2 separate regions of the Homo sapiens genome follow, and region 2 is linked to region 1. Evidence: fine-mapped expression QTL. Tissue or cell type: whole blood. Region 1 holds a variant in brackets; the other region holds the start of a gene. All regions are shown on one strand. Distances are from middle to middle.

Evidence for each region. PIP is the estimated chance that this variant, and not a neighbour inherited with it, causes the effect.
Region 2: THNSL1 starts here. The variant in region 1 is fine-mapped to the expression of THNSL1 in whole blood (TOPMed, PIP above 0.99).

Annotation. Positions count from the first base shown.
Region 1 is chr10:24,951,328-24,959,433 of GRCh38, forward strand. PRTFDC1 (phosphoribosyl transferase domain containing 1) reads right to left here and starts at 1,279. Exons shown (of 9, transcript NM_020200.7): 1 at 1,201-1,279. The coding sequence starts at 1,248. It also overlaps a transcript of THNSL1 not described here. RefSeq lists a silencer at 1,440-1,629. The variant T/C (reference allele first, on the strand shown) is at 4,952.
Region 2 is chr10:25,012,505-25,020,610 of GRCh38, forward strand. It overlaps THNSL1 (threonine synthase like 1), which reads left to right and starts at 4,108. Exons shown (of 3, transcript NM_024838.5): 1 at 4,108-4,188. ENKUR (enkurin, TRPC channel interacting protein) reads right to left here and starts at 3,654. Exons shown (of 6, transcript NM_145010.4): 1 at 3,356-3,654. The coding sequence starts at 3,432. RefSeq lists silencers at 3,660-3,709, 4,040-4,239, 4,420-4,499 and enhancers at 3,783-4,545, 3,856-4,150, 4,750-4,829.

The DNA of each region.
Region 1 (8,106 bases):
TCTCTAGAACGCAAGCTCATGAAGACAAGGCCTTTGTCTTTTGCACCCCAGAGCCTACAGCACCTCCTACAACCCAGCAGGACAATAAACGTGTGGAATGAATAAATCAACTCCTCATCCTTTCAGAAGGAAAGGTCCTGCTGTTAAATTAAGCACTGAGCCCCACATTTCAACCTGACCCTTCTGTCTGAATGTGACACGTTTCCCTCCCCAGCCCACTTACTTTAGTTCAGGCCATTCATATTCATAAACAGATTATCTGTGAATGACAAGCTGATCCCTGGAAAGAGATGGCAAGTTAGCCCCACCCACCATCCTCACCACCATTGAGTTTCACACTGAACCTGACACAAGTTATAACCACCACCTTCTAGGAAAACCACTTCTCAGGGAGCAGGGAGGACGTGGCCACAAGGTCAAGAACGGGTTGGATCCTAGCACACTGAGAGATGGGTACCCTCTGGCTGACACCGTCAGGATTCTCAGGGTTAATGAGGCTCAGTTCTGGGAAACCAGCACCCCACACCCTCCCATCCGGACACACTGCTAGATATTTTACATGCATCCTCCCAATTGGCTCCAGAGCCCAGCTTGCTGTTGCTCCCTTTTACAGACAAGCCATAGGTCACTCAGGAGCCGCCAGCGTGTCCTAGAGCTCCTGCAGAGGCCTCCACTGCCAGAGAGCCCCCAACCTGGGTACCAAAGGCTTCAAATCTCAAGCTCTGTCCACTTGAGCTACTTTATTTCCTAGCTGCCTTCAAAACCCCTCAGTGTGCTTTTTAAAAACAAAACTTGAAGCCCGCCCTGGAGGAGTCAAGAGGAGACCCAGGAAGAAGGAGGCCTCCAGAGCAGCACGCGGGGGTCTCTGGGGCCCTGCCGGGCTCGCAGAAGCGACTCCCCGTGGCTCGCGGGGATGGGGACGGCTGGGCGCCGGCGGGACGCTGCAGGAGCGAGCTACCGGCCGGAGGACACGGGGGGACGCTGGGAACTCGGGGTGAAGGGACGGGACTCAGAGTTTCGTCAGATTGGGGGCGGGGAGAGGAGGCCCGGGTCCGAGGATGGAAGCGATCCCCGCCGGGAGGGAGAACAAAGCGGTGGCCCTCTCTCTCCCCCGACGCACGGCAAGCATTTAATCTACAAGCAGGGTGCCAGGGAGGGAGGGGAGCGGGCCGAGCCCCAAAATAGGGAGTTTGCATTTACCACGACGCCTCGCCCGTAGTCTGGCGCCTCCTCGCTGCTCCCGGCCATGTTTCTCCCGGGGAACGCGGGAAGGGAAGACGGCGCGGGAAGGAGCAGGGAGGGCGAAGGCTGCGTGGGGGATGGGACGTGGGGATGGGGACGGGGACGGGGACGGGGACGGGGACGGGGACGGGTCCGCCCCGCCCCGGGCCCGCCGGCGGGAAGCAGCGGCCTGACGCGGATCCATGGCCCCGGCGCTGCGCCCCCTCCCCTGGCTAGGCCGCGGGGGCGCGGGGAGCAGCTGCCAAGCCGCTACCGCTCCCCCTGAGCGCGGGCCCCGGACGCGTCCCTTGCGGCCGCCGCTGTCGCCGCCGCCCCCTGCCGGATGGTCGCGTGCAGCCCCCGGCCCCGCCGCCAAGCCCCGCGGGGACTCTGGAGCAGGAAGCCCGCGGCAGGAAGAGAACGTGTCCCCCAGGCCCCTGATTCCCAGATCCACCGTCCCAGCCCTCGGGCTAACAATCTCCTTGACTCCTCCCTGCCAGATTTCATGCACGCGATTGTCCCAAGCAGAAGCGTGAAAGAGCCTGTGAGCCAGCGTGCTCTTGGAGGATGGGAAGTGTCCTGGATGTGTTTTCAAACCTTGGAGCCGCCACCCACCTCTCTCCACCTCCGCTCATCTCCCTCCACCTCCCCTCACCTCCCTCCACCTCCCCTCACCTCCCTCCATCTTCCTCCACCTTTCTCCACCTTCCCCCACCTCCCTCATCCCAGGGCCTGGAGCTGGAAAGATTACACCCGATTGCTTTTAGGGTGGCCCGGATCTGCAGTGATCAGATCTGGGCTTTGAGGATCCAGCCTTTCGGCCTTTCGTCAACTGCATTCAGGGGAGGAGGGGGAGAGATTTTTACACATTCTCTGCTTTACCAGTTTTGCAAGAACATCTGGTCAGATTGTAATTGTTCCAGGTTGCAGCTTTACTAAAGCAATCGCTCTTTTCTGATTAGAAATCCTTCTTGTATGAGTCTGTTGTTCATTTCAACCCCTCTCACATGCCTATGCTCCGGTTCTTTGTCCACTCCTGTAGGTTCCTGCTTTTTCTGGGTGTGTCTTCATTCCCCAGGTCCCTGACATCTCACCAGCGTCTTCATTCACTCAGCCCAATTCGGGTCGAAGCCCTGAATCCAAGAGAACTTAACACAGTTTTCCTGATGCAGGCGTCTTTTGTTCATCTTCGAATTCTGGCACACAGAGGGGAGAGGAATGCTGATTTTGCCTAGTTTAAAGGGGAAATAGTTATCAATCGGTTAATGACGTTCTAGGTTGGAAAAATATTAGTCATTCAGACTTGGCGCCCTGGTCCTGCTCAGCAGGGCTGGCTCTTCATGTCGTTTCTAAGCGCCAGCGCCTTGGAGGGTGCAGCTCCAGAGATCCCTGAAATCAGGCATCTGCTTGGCAACTGCCTTACAGAAATGGGGGGTGTTGTTTCTCAGCACACGGGTAAACATTTTCTCCTAGTAATTGTGAGAGGGCGTTGTTTTGAGCCATTTTTGTAGTCTGCATCTCACTTCTTTTCCCCAAAGTCAAGCACCATCTTTTATTTTCATTTTCAAAGACCAGGCCCAGGAACCATATTCACAAGCAACATCATTAAAATTTCCAGGAGCAGAAAAGTGCTATCATTAGGATGATGATCAAACTTTAGAGTTCACAAGACTCTCCTGGGGAGCTGGTTAATGCAGCTTCACTGGGTGGGGAAGATCTGTGGAAGCACCTAGAATCCTGTACCTGCTGAGAGACACCAGATGGGTGTGATGTGGGTGGCTCATGACCCATGCTTTAGGGGATTCCACTAGACCATCTTACTGCTTGGATATCAAAACTTAGCCATGAGGCTCAGTGTGGGTGCAGGGCCAGATTGGGGGGTACCAGGAACTTCAAAATATGTCACAGGAGTAGTTGCCATACAGAAGTCAAAAAGCATCAACTTTGGTTCCAGCCTAGACACTGCGGAAGATGTAAGGGAAATGGTAGATAAATCTTCTTCCCTTAGAAAGGCTATTAGTTTAAACGTAAAATCCAACAAGTTCACAGTGAAAAATGTAACTTGCTTGAAAGACAACAGGAATCTTATGAATGTGTGCTCAAGAACATCCTACATAGACTTATATAGGTCATCCTATAAAGGGCACAGAATGATGAGTAAATAGTTTTTAAAAATCTAATTCATTTTATTATCTTTGTATATTTTGATAATACTTTGTGCGGTCTGATTACACTTCGATACTTTGGAGAGCATTAACATAATACAAAATAATACTTGATAACCCAAATAGTATTTGCAAAGACCGGTATCCAGAAATAACAGCTCATCTGTCCAAGGCTTTATTCTTAATCTTGCATTATGAGGATTTAGAGGCAAAAATTCTTTTTAAACCTCAAATTTCTGTTACATGTTGTATTAGTCTGTTCTCATATTGGTATAAAGAACTACCTTAGACCTGGATAATTTATGAAGAAAAGAGGTTTAATTGACTCACAGTTCTGCAGGCTGTACAGAAAGCAAGGCTGGGAGGCCTCAGGAAATTTACAATCATGGCAGAAGGCAAAGGGGAAGCAAGCACGTCTTACCATGGCAGAGCAGGAGAGAGAGAGAGCAAGGGTGTAGTGCCACATACTTTTAAACCATCAGATCTTGTGAGAACTCACTCACTATAACGAGAACAATATGGGAGAAATCCACCCCCATGAGCCAATCACCTCCCACCAGATCCCTCCCCCAACACTGGGAATTACAATTCAACATGAGATTTGGGTGGGGACACAGAGCCAAACCATATCACATGTCTAGTGGAATAGCTTTGGACTAGGACCTCTATTTTTCTGTAACAATCCATGTTACTTTAGCCAATGAGTCTAAGCCAATTATATCAGTGTAATATACATCAATTTTCTCATCCATAAAATGGAGCCACCCATTTATTCTCTACTGCATATGATGATGAGATGAATGTGAGATAACATGCAAGAGAATTCTTTGCAAAATGCTATAAAACTGTAAGATATTATTAACCTGACATGCTGTAAAAATGTATGACCAAATGTTTGTAAAATTATTCCATGTGAAAATGACAAGGAATTGTCTTTTAAGGTTGATGGGGCTAGGCACCATGGCTCACACCTGTAATACCAGCACTTCGGGAGGCCAAAGCAGGAGGCTCACTTGAGGCCAGGAATTCAAGACCAAACCTGGGTAACATTGTAAGACCACATCACTATAAAAAATTAAAAACTTAGCCAGGTGTGGTAGCGTGGCACCTGTAGACCTAGCTACTGGGGAGGCTGAGCTGGAAAGATTGCTTGAGGCCAGAAGTTTGAGGCTGCATTGAGTCATAATTGCACCACTGCACTCCAGCCTGGGTGACAGAGCAAGACCCTGTCCCTACAAACAAATAATAATAATAATAATAAAAGATTGACGTAAGGTGACCAATCAGGGATAGTTATAGTCCAGGGATAGTCTAGAGCTGGTATGAGAATGAATACAGAAAAATGATAAAATTATTAAAATAATGAGATTTTTCATAAAAAGGGATATTTTAGCTCAGACTGTCCATTTCCTTTTCTTTTTTTTTCCTTTCCAACTTTTATTTGAGGTTTGGGGGTACACACGCAGGTTTGTTTGGGAAAATTGCATGTCGCAGGGGTTAGGTGTACAGATTATTTCATCACCCAGGTAATAACCATAGCACCTGATACATAGTTTTTTGATCCT[T/C]ACCCTCCTCCCGCCCTCCACCCTCAAGTAGGCCCTGGTCAGACTGTCCATTTTCTAATATACCTTTGAAAGAGCTATAAGAATAAAGATGTGCATCTTTGCAAAGTTAATAACCAGTCAATATACTTGTATTTTTCTATCATTCTCTTTATTACATTTTAGCAGTAGTTTCTCTGCATTTTATTTATTTTTTTTTTTTGGTGTTTATATTGTGTTTACTTACTTTTTTTTTTAGTTTTATTTTTAACTGACACATAATAGTTATACATATTATCTATGGGGTACAGTGTGATATTCCACTACATGTATACATTGCATAATGATCAACTCAGGGTAATTAGCATACTCATCATCTCAAGCATTTTTCTTTTCTTTGTGGTGAGAACATTCAAAATTGTCTCTTCTAGCTGATTTGAAATATACAACACATTATTGTTAAATATATCATTCTGCTGTGCCATACAGCAGGTGTCCCCAACTACCGGGCTGCAAACTGGTACCAGCCTGTGGCCTGTTAGGAACTGAGCTGCACTGTAGGAGGTGAGTGTCAGCGAGCATTCCCACCTGAGCTCTGCCCCTGTCAGATCAGCAGCCGCATTCGATTCTCACAGGAGCACAAACCCTATGGTGAACCGCACATGGGAGGGATCTAGGTTGCATGCTCCTTCTGTGAACCTAACTAATGCCGGATGATCTGAGATGGAACAGTTTCATCCTGAAACCATCCCCCCTCAAAATCCGTGGAAAAATTGTCTTGCACAAAACAGGTCTTTGGTGCCAAAAAGGTTGAGACTACTGCGTTAGTGTACCAGAACTTATTCCTCTCATCTAACTATAACCTAGTACCTACTAACCAACTTCTCCTACTCCTGCCACTCCTCCCCACCTTTCACCTGACTCTGCTAACCAGTATTCTAGTCTCTACTTCTATGTGATCAACTTTTTAAAATTCCACATATAAGTGAGATCATGTCGTATTTGCCTTTTGTTTCTGGCTTTTCTTGCTTAACATAATGTCCTCCAGGTTCATCCATGTTGTTGCAAATGACAGGATTTCATTCTTTTTGTTGAGGTCTTATCCAAAAAATCCTTGCCTGGACCAATGTCATGAAGTGTTTCCACTATGTTTTTTTTCTAGCAGTTTCATCATCTCAGGTTTTACATGGCAGTCTTTATTTTGAGTTGATGTTTGTTTGTTTGTTTGTTTGTTTGTTTGTTTTGAGACGGAGTCTTGCTCTGTTGCCCAGGCTGGAGTGCAGTGGTTTTATCTCGGCTCACTGCAACCTCCGCATCTCAGATTCAGGTGATTGTCCTGCCTCAGCCTCCCAAGTAGCTGGGATTACAGGCGCCCACCACCACGCCCGGCTAATTTTTGTGCTTTTAGTAGAGATGGGGTTTCACCACATTGGCCAGGCTGGTCTCAAACTCCTGACCTCAAGTGATCTGCCTGCCTCGGCCTGCCAAAGTTCTGGGATTACAGGCATGAGCCACTGCATCCGGCCTTGAGTTGATTTTTGTATATGGTGAGAAAGAGGGGTCTAGTTTCATTCTTCCACATGTGGATATTCAGTTTTCCCATCACCGTGATTCTCTGCATTTTAAATTCTGTAATCATCCTGTGCCACTACCATGGTGAAAACACAAATATTTATAATTCACTGAATTCTCTGCCAGCCTGGAGGCTTTTGTCCTGGAAGTATATACTAATTTTTTTTTGACATTTTGGTAATTGACTTTTGTCAATACAAATCTGTAATTGAAGGAACAGTTCAGTCTATCCACTGAATTGTTCCTAGCCCGTCACTCAGTGACACTAGATTGGAAATACAGAAAGGCATTTAATTCTTTCTGCACTAGACTGGAAATACAGAAAGGCAGTTAATTCTTTCTGAGTCTTGAAACATGAAAGTAAATTAAAAAAAAAAACCTTTCAGTCTGGGAATTGTGTTGAAATCCATAAACATCTGAAACTTAGTGACTCAGATTGTTAGTCACAGAGTCACTGGTTAGAATCTGGATGAAATCCACTGTGGACAAAGGCCAGTAATAATGATGATGATATTTTGCTTTTCCATAGTGCCGAACAAAACTCTTTACAAATGTTACAAGTACAAAAGAAAGAGTAGCAAGACATTTTTTCTGCAAGTGCTCAGGCTAAGTAAGACTCTTGCTAACTTTGAAGTAGTTTATTTTTCCCTCTACATAAATACAAAAGAAATGTAGTGGCAAATAATTGCAACAAAACCCAACTTAAGCAAAGGCCTCATTAGTATTCAATTAGCATAGTAACCCGTCTTTCCCGGTCTCTTGTTTGAAGCAGACTGGATCCAATGTGTAGTCTTGGAGTAAAGAAAATAATATCTCCAGAGTAGGTCTTACAAATAAAGCCAAGGCTACACTCAATTGTGTTTTGTATTATTACACTTTCGTTAGTAATTCACCTTCCACTGAAGAACACACAGAGGGTAGATCTAAGTTTGTTCTCTTGCAATAATGTCAGACCTGAGGAATATCAGCAGTAAGCGCTGGGCAGTTTCAGAGATATCCTCCCACTATCTCCCCTTCTGACCGGAACAGGAATTGGATAGCTTCAGAGCAAAAGAATAATGTGTCCATGTGTTCCTCCAGATCTCTGAGTCCTGGCAGTCGACCTCAACTCTCTTGGCCACCATAAAGCAGTCATTGAAAGGACACAGCTGCAGGAACTAGGGACTAAGCAGTAAATAAATCCACAGGGCTGGAGGCAGAAGTTACGTACATGACCCTAAAACAATACTCTGTGGTTATGAACAAACTGATTAGCATCTGAGGGTCCTGTAGCAGCTTATGCAAAATTAATTGGTGCCTCAGCCAGTGCTGAGTTTCTAAAGGAAAGATGTCCACTTCAAAAACAAAAACAAAAAAAGGGGGGCCTCCTTAGTCAGCAGCAACTTTGCCTGGTGTCCTGGGGAGACGATCAGCTAGAATGGGAATGGAGCTGTTTATTCTCTTAGCTGTACATGGATTCTCTTCAGATCAGAGCTGATGTATAACAGCCACTGGCAATATCCCAAGACATGATCCAGTGATTGCCAGGTTATGGGTTGCATCTTAGAGTTAAGGTGAGAGGAGCTTGGGAAAGAGGTTGAGAGATGTGGCTTGAGAGTGGGAGAGAT
Region 2 (8,106 bases), 61 kb after region 1:
CCACCTCTTGCATCAGCGTGACCTGGATGTGAGACATGGAGTCAAAGGAGATCATTTTGGAACTTTAAGGTTTAATGACTGCCCTATTAGAATCTGGACTTGCAAGGGGCCTATAGCCCCTTTGTTTTGGCCAATTTCTGCTATTTCGAATGGTTATATTTACCCAATGCCTGGACCCCCATTGTATCTGGGAAGTACCTAACTTGCTTTTGATTTTATATGCTTGTAGGCAGAAGGGACTTGCCTGGTCTCAAATGAGACTTTGAACTGTGGACTTCTGAGTTAATGCTGAAATGAGTTAAGACTTTGGGGGACTGTTGGGAAGGTATGATTGGTTTTGAAATGTGAGGACATGAGATCTGGGAGGGGCTGGGGTAGAATGATATGGTTTGGCTGCATCCCCACGCAAATCTCACATTAAATTGATGAGATCCCATAATTCCCATATGTCATGGGAGGGATCTGGTGATAGGTAATTGAATCATGGGAGTGGGTCTTTCCTGTGCTGCTCTCATGATAGTGAATAAGTCTCATGAGATCTGATGGTTTTATAAAGGGGAGTTCCCCTGCACACACTCTCTTTCCTGCCACCATGTAAGATGTGACTTTGCTCCGCCTTTGCCTTCTGCCATGATTGTAAGGCTTCCTCAGCCATGTGAAACTGTGAGTCAATTAAACTTCTTTTGAAATATAAATTACCCAGTCTCGAGTATGTCTTTATTAGCAGCGTGAGAACAGACTAATATACTATGTTCTATGATAGATAAGAGATATAAAAGACATATTTATTAAATTTGCAAATGACACAAAAAGAATGGTTAACAGAATGTATAAAAGATTCAAATGCAAAACTATCTCCATAGATTAATGAGTTGAGATAAAAAAGAATCAGCTACATAATTAGAGGATGGGAGAGACCAACCTTAGTCAAAATCCATACAGGGTATTTTAGTGTGAGCCAATAGTTGGACATGACTGTCAAAATGCTTATGGAAGCTTAGGCTGAATGGATGAAAATATTGTGCCAAGAATTATGGAAAGGAGATAATGGTTTCATGGACTGTTCAGACCATAACTGGAATATTGCTTTAAACAAAATGGAAAGAGGGGATGACTGGAGATATTCAATAACTGCAGACATCAATAAAGGGTGATAGGCCAGGCGTGGTGGCTCACGCCTATAATCATAGCACTTTGGGAGGCAGAGGTGGGTGGATTACTGGAGGTCAGGAGGTCAAGACCAGCCTGGCCACCATGGTGAAACCCCATCCCTACTAAAAATACAAAATTAGCCAGGCATGGTAGCAGGGACCTGTAATCCCAGCTACTCGGGAGGCTGAGGCAGGAGAATCGCTTGAACCCAGGAGGCAGAAGCTGCAGTGAGCCAAGATGGCGCCATTGCACTCCAGCCTGGGCAAAAAGAGTGAAACTCCGTCTTGAAAAAAAAGTAATTAAAAAAAAAAGGGTGACAGATTTGGTGAAAATCTTGGAAACCATCTTATGCATCATGAGTAACTCAAATTTTGAAAACTGAATCATGACTTCCCATTGACTCTGAGGCTTTCATAACTTAAGTCTCAGCCAATAGTTCAACTGCAGAAAAGTGCCTTTCATCCGATTTTGGTCACATACATTCATCTTCTAAGTTCTCATTTAGTATCTTCATCTCTCATTATGGTTTTCAATGATAAATTTTAGTGTTCATATTTCAGTTCCCCAAAAAGACGGTAAACTCTGAGGCGTGGGAGATCAAAAGCCAGGCAGTTGTCAGAATCTTGCCAGTGTAAATTGACTTTAACCTAACAGAAATGATTCTTTTGGCATCACATTTGGGTGCCTCTATTTCCTCTAATCATAAATCTTTCTTCTACTCATTTCTTCATAGTAAAACCAAGAAGTCTGTGCTATCACTCCAACAGCACCAAGAACAGATATACTAGTGCAATATTATACACATAATAGGGGCTCCATTAATGCTTGCCAAATGAATAAAGACTGTTCCTATAAATTTTTTTTGAAAAAAAAAATCGTCTAGATGCAGTAAAGCTTTTTAATTTGCCAAAGAACAGAATACCTACCTAATAAAATAACTCTCAAATTCAATATTCTATAGAAATACAATCTACCAATCTGTTATAGAGGAGTTTTATCTCATGTAATATGCAGGAATTTGAAACCAAAAGTTGGTGCAACAATAGAAAATTTGAAAATAAATTCTGCAACTGTGCCATAACTTACTTTACATTCCTCTTTCCAGTCTCTAGATGTTGATATGCTAATGGAGATGTAATACAGTTACTGCTCTAATTTAAACCAGATACTTAAAATTGAAGAAGCTGCCTACTTGTTGAAGCTATTACCCTAATACTAGTAAAAATAATTGACCATTAGATCTAAAAGGGGCCTTGGATATTATCTGGTACATTTATCTCACAGATCAGTAAACAAATGAAACTTTATTCTAAAGTTCACAAAGACAATTAATTGCTAGGCCCGATTTTTAGTCCAGTCCTTTTCAAATGTGGTTTTGACTTGCATACGGACAAGGATGATGGTAAAAGACAGGAAACATTTCAAGTCCTAGGAGAAATGAGATTTTCTCCACTACTTTCTTTGCTCCCCACAGATTTAAGTAAGTTCTAAGAAGTCCCTACAGATGGGAGTAACTGAAGTGCTTCCTTTGCACGTTTTTGAGATTTGGAGAATTTAAGAGGTTCTAAGACCTATGTAAAATTTCAACTCAATTACATATTTTTTGGTTCATTATCTATCCACCAATTCTTCCTTCCATTTAAACCATTAGATCTGAAAAAGTCCTTAGAAACTGCCTAATAGTGGTAGATATTTCGTTTCACTGATCAAAAACCTGAGGCTCAAAAGCAAATGTAAATTTATATTTCATAAAAATCTTGGGGGAAAAGTCCTATCCTATCCCATTAGAGAGGGAGTAGTGCAGTTAGAAATACAACACCGAACTCCTGAAACCAAACATCAAGTATCCTTAAACAAGATAATAGAATTGTGATTTTTTTCTTTTCAACATGAAACTTCATACTATGCTGTATATCACATATAATTAAATTACACAATAATCACATACCGTATTAATAAGAGGTTAAGTGTAATATAATAAAATGGTCATCTCACAGCGCCAGACTGCCCTCTCTGTAAAACTGTGAGATGCTGAATACCTAGATATTTCGACCTTTTCTCTAACAAGTTATCCTCCAAGGCTACTTCATCGAGGCAAAAATACATTTTATTTATTATTAAAAATTCCAGTATATGTATGCTTAATTAATACTGAGTATTCCCCATTCTTGTTTCAAGTGATAGTCTTTGCTTATCCACATACCTAGGAGGCTGGGGAGGCTCCTTCAAGTCACTGGGTATGAGGTTATAAATGCACTCAGAAGAGCACGTTGGATCCATGGCCACCAAATGACTCCTTAAAAGCTACTCTCCACAACTTTTTTCTCCCTGTCCCAGTATCTCCGTCCCTTTCTTCACTGCTTCCCCTTTCTTTCTTCTTCGCCTTCTGAAGGACCACAGGTTCTCTCCTTCACATCGTCCCCCTTTAACCCCCTCTTAGCAGTCCTCTCTCGGGAAGAAAACACCCTATTTCTCTCCGGATTGCTAAGCGTCGTTGACTGTGCGGTTGCCGTGGAAACCGTTACTAGGCAACGAGGAAGTGGCAGGCAGCACCGCAAACTAGGTCTCCCCTCTTCCCTCTTTCTGCAGCGCCTTCTGCTAGAGAAGCTCATTTGGAAGCCACTGTTTTTACGTGCCTTTGAAAGTTAACGGGGTGAAAATGATGTCCCCTTAAAAACTGTGCTCTTTTCTATTTCTGTGTATCTGGGGAAAAAAGAAAAATCCTAGTAGAGACGGCAAAGCGCAGCTGGTGCGCAGGCGTCACCCAATAAGGTTTTTGTGAGCAGGCCCCAATCGCGGTGTGGGCGGAGCGAGCGGCTGAGACCACGAGGACGCAAGGCCAGCGCCGCCAGGGAGACGAGGGAGGGGAGGAGCCTGAGGAGATCGGAGTGCTCGGATAGGCTACAGTGAGAAAGGAGAGTCACGTGCCCTGCGCGAGGCCGCTCGGGGAAGGGCGTGGAGCGGAGGCACGCTGGCCGCCGCAGGCACAGGCGCAGAGTCCACTGCGCGGGGGCGGGACCGGGGAGCTAGCTGCAGGTACGGTGCTCCGTCTCCTGTGGAGGCTTTAGCGGCTCGTGGACACTGCTCCCCCATTTCCTTTCATTTCCCCCGTCTTCTCAGTGAGATTTCCTTGGTGAGTTATTGGAGGAGAAAGGAAGGAAAACTAGAAGCCAGCCCGCTCCCATCGCATGCCTTTCCCCGTACCGTCCCTTCCCCTTTCCGCTACTCGCTGGTCATCTCAACTCTGCGCGCATTTTTCCTGCTGCTTCTGGTCGAGGCTCCTCGGAACGCCGCGCAGCCCTGCCCGCCACGTGTGTGAGTGCGCGCACGGGGCCCGCGGCCTCCTCCGCCTGCTGCGCTCGCCCTCCCGCCCCTGCTCCCGGGACCGCCCCTTGGGCGGTCCTCCGGGTCGGCTCTGCGCCTGCTCTTCCCCGGGTCGGGACTCTTCCTCTAGGTCGTTCTCCAGGAACCAGTGGACCTGCTCTTTGTAAATGAGCAGCCTAAACTAAGAGGAGAAGCCTTTTAAGTGGGCCTTTACGTTTTTGTCCAGTTTTTGGTGTCCCTTGTTGGAAAATTGTCTTCTGAGAAGCGGTTTTATTCCTTTTTGTTCCACCTGGTCACCCGTAAATCTATGCACATGGGCCTGCCGTAGGAAAGTCATTTAGACGCTTTTACCCGAGTGTTTAAAAGACATTTTGGTAATAGGATTTGGGGAGGAAGATGGATGCCTCTGAACCACCGGTACAGAGGCCACTCTGCCCGAAGGAAATAAAGCTTCCCGGAGAGGAGAGAAAACACACTTGAGTCTGGGTTTCTCACTGCCTGGTTGGCTGGCGGAGTGATTAAAACAACACAATGGCCTGGTGAACCTTTTAGTTCCTGTATAAAAAGGCTTTACTGAATGTGTAGGTCCTTACTTTGGGCTCTTACTGAATTTCACTACATAAGAATACGTTAAGTTTTTCTTTTTTTTTTTTTTGTATACAGTTGATTTTAATTTTTGTCCCAGACGCTTAGGGAAAATTCTCCAGATTTCTTCACATCAGATTGTCTTCCAAAACATTTTAGATAGATGGATCTGTAGATCTATATTTAGATCTAGATCCAAATCTATATCACTTTGCCCCTTTCTTTTCGCCCTTGAGTATTTTATGTTTGGGATTTCTGTTTAGCAAGTATAGAGAAAAAATTTGGCGGGAAACCTCCTGTATGTACGAAGATTCGAACCAAGGACTCATGGAATGATAACGCCATTAGCCAAGTGGATAGTCACTGGCTAAAGCTTATGAATTTTCTAATTAGAAGGAACACCTTGAGACTATTTGTGTTAATCAGTTCCTGAAATAGCAAGTAAGGGCAAAACATGATTTCTGCAGTTAGCACCAACTGGCCTTTGGTAGCCTTGATGTTCTGGGGTTACTGAAATAAAATAATTTCACTGATGTCTGTATATTTATTATGCTTTAAAAAATGCTAAACAATTTGTGCAAGACCTCACTGTGGTATAGTTAGTTTACAGCCATGAGCAGGTTGTTAAATCATTTGGAAAAAAACTTTTCTTTTTTCTTAGACATTTGATCTGCAATTCTCCTTGCCTTTTGAAAGTGTGTTTAAGCAAAATTATTTCTAGTTTTTATAATGCTCTTGAAATGACACTTCAAAAAAATGCCTGTGTCCACCGCATGTCCACAGGGAATTAACTGGTATATACCTACAGGGATGAACAAACTGTCTATAAAGGGGTAGACAGTAAATATTTCAGGCCTTTTTAGGCCAAGTGGTTATGTTGCAACTACTCAGTTTTGCCATTGTAGCTCAAAAGCAGCCAAAGACGGTACTGAACAAATATGTGAGCACATGAATGACTGAAGTTGTGCTTCAAAGAAACTTGATTTATGAAAATGATGGTGGGCCAGATTTAGCCTGTGGATTGTAGTTTGCACAGATCCTAGATCCCCGTATATAATGGTATGCCTGTGATGTACATAAACAAATGAGAGTTGTTTTTTTTTTTTTTTTTTTTGCGAAGGATTATTTTAATCTATTTAAATGAATAAAATGGGTGTAGATGAGTATATAAGACAATTGGAAGGTAAATAAACCCTTTATAAAGACAGGTTCTTTATAATTCTCAAAGTTATAGAATTGTGGATACTAAAGTTTTCAATTAAATATTCGAGATCGTTAAGAATATGTCTAACAGCAGAAGTCTAACGGCAGAAAAAGCTTAGTCAGCTTTGATAGTAATATAAAGACTAAGTGATGAACTTGCAAAATTGTTTTAGTTGTGAGATCCTTGTGATTACAGAACTATACTGGATTGTGTGGTCCTTCCACCCTCACCTCTGTTTCATGGCAAGTGGGAGGCCCTCTGAATGAAAAGTTTGAGAGAATTTTTGGTCAGAAGTCAGAAGCAGTAGAGCTTAACCTCCTTTTGGCTAGTTTGTGTCCTGATACACAGTTAGTTCTCCATATCTGTGAATTTCCCATTCTCAGATTCAACTAATTACAGATTGAAAATATTTTAAAATTTTAGTTGGGCACAGTGGCTCATACCTGCAATCCAAGCACTTTTTGAAGGCCAAGGCAGGAAGACTGCTTGAGCCCAGGAGTTGGAGACCAGCCTGGGCAACATGGCGAAACCCCCTCTCTACTAAAAATACTAAAATTAGCTGGGTGTGGTGGTGCGTGCCTTTAGTCCCAGCTACTTGGGAGGCTGAGGTGGGAGGATTGCTTGAGCCTAGGAAGTCAAGGCTGTAGTGAGCCAAGATTGTGCCACTGCACTCCTGCCTGGGCAACAGAGTGGGAGCCTGTCTGAAAAACAAACAAAAACACGAAAATAATGGAACAGTAAAAATACCACAAACAAAAAAGCAAATTAGTACAACAGCTCTGTACCTAGCATTTGCATTGTATTATGTATTATAAGTTATTCAGAGATTAAGGTATACAGGAGGATGTGCACAGGTTATATGCAAATACTACACCATTTTATATAAAGGACTTGCACATCTGCAGATTTTTCTCACTCTAAAGTCAGTCCTATTAACTGCTAATTATCCAATATCCCTCTCAATGCTTAATCCAAATAATTGTTAAACACATGAAAGAGAAGAGTGTCAAGACCAAAAGCCTTGGAGTGCACTACCAGAAATTTCCCTCTATTCAACAGAACCATTTTTATGATCATTCAACAATATCCTCAAATCTTTTTTTTCCATTTCTCCGTGAATTAAAAAAATTTTAAATGAACCATGTGTAATGCTTTGGTGAAGTCCATATATATGCCTTCTATGTATATTCCCGAGTGGCCATTGCAGCAGACGTTCTCAAAAAAGAAATGAGGATGTCTTTTCCTCATTTGGTTGGTTAAAAAATGTTGAGCCCCTAAAATCAATTTGTGGTTAAATGTTACAAAATAAAATTTAGTATGTAGCTTAAAATAGAATATATCTTTATTGTTCTTTAGAAATAATATATATTATAGCACTTAACTGCCTTCTGCTAGTCTAAGGAACATGTTTGTGGGAAATAATATTGATACAGAATTTACAAATTGAACTGTCATAATTTTCTTTAAAATATATCTATATCTATATCTATATCTATATCTATATCTATATATATCTACCCCAAAGTCTTGAAAAAGGGAAGTGAAGTAAAATTTAAAAACAAGAGGGTAGAGGGGAACTAACATATAGGAAAAGTAAGATTGCAAAACATAAGGTGAAGGTAACATAATGTTTCCTTACAATCTACTTTTAATGAAGTTGATGTTAAGCATGGTAGCAAGCAATATAAAGCGGAAGAAAAGATGAAAGATTTACTGGGCCAGTATGGTGGTTCATGCCTCTAATCCCAGCACTTTGGGAGGCCAAAGTGGGAGGATTGCTTGAGTTCAGGAGTTCGAGATCAGTCTGGGCAACATGGTGAAACCCTGTCTCTAGAAAACCT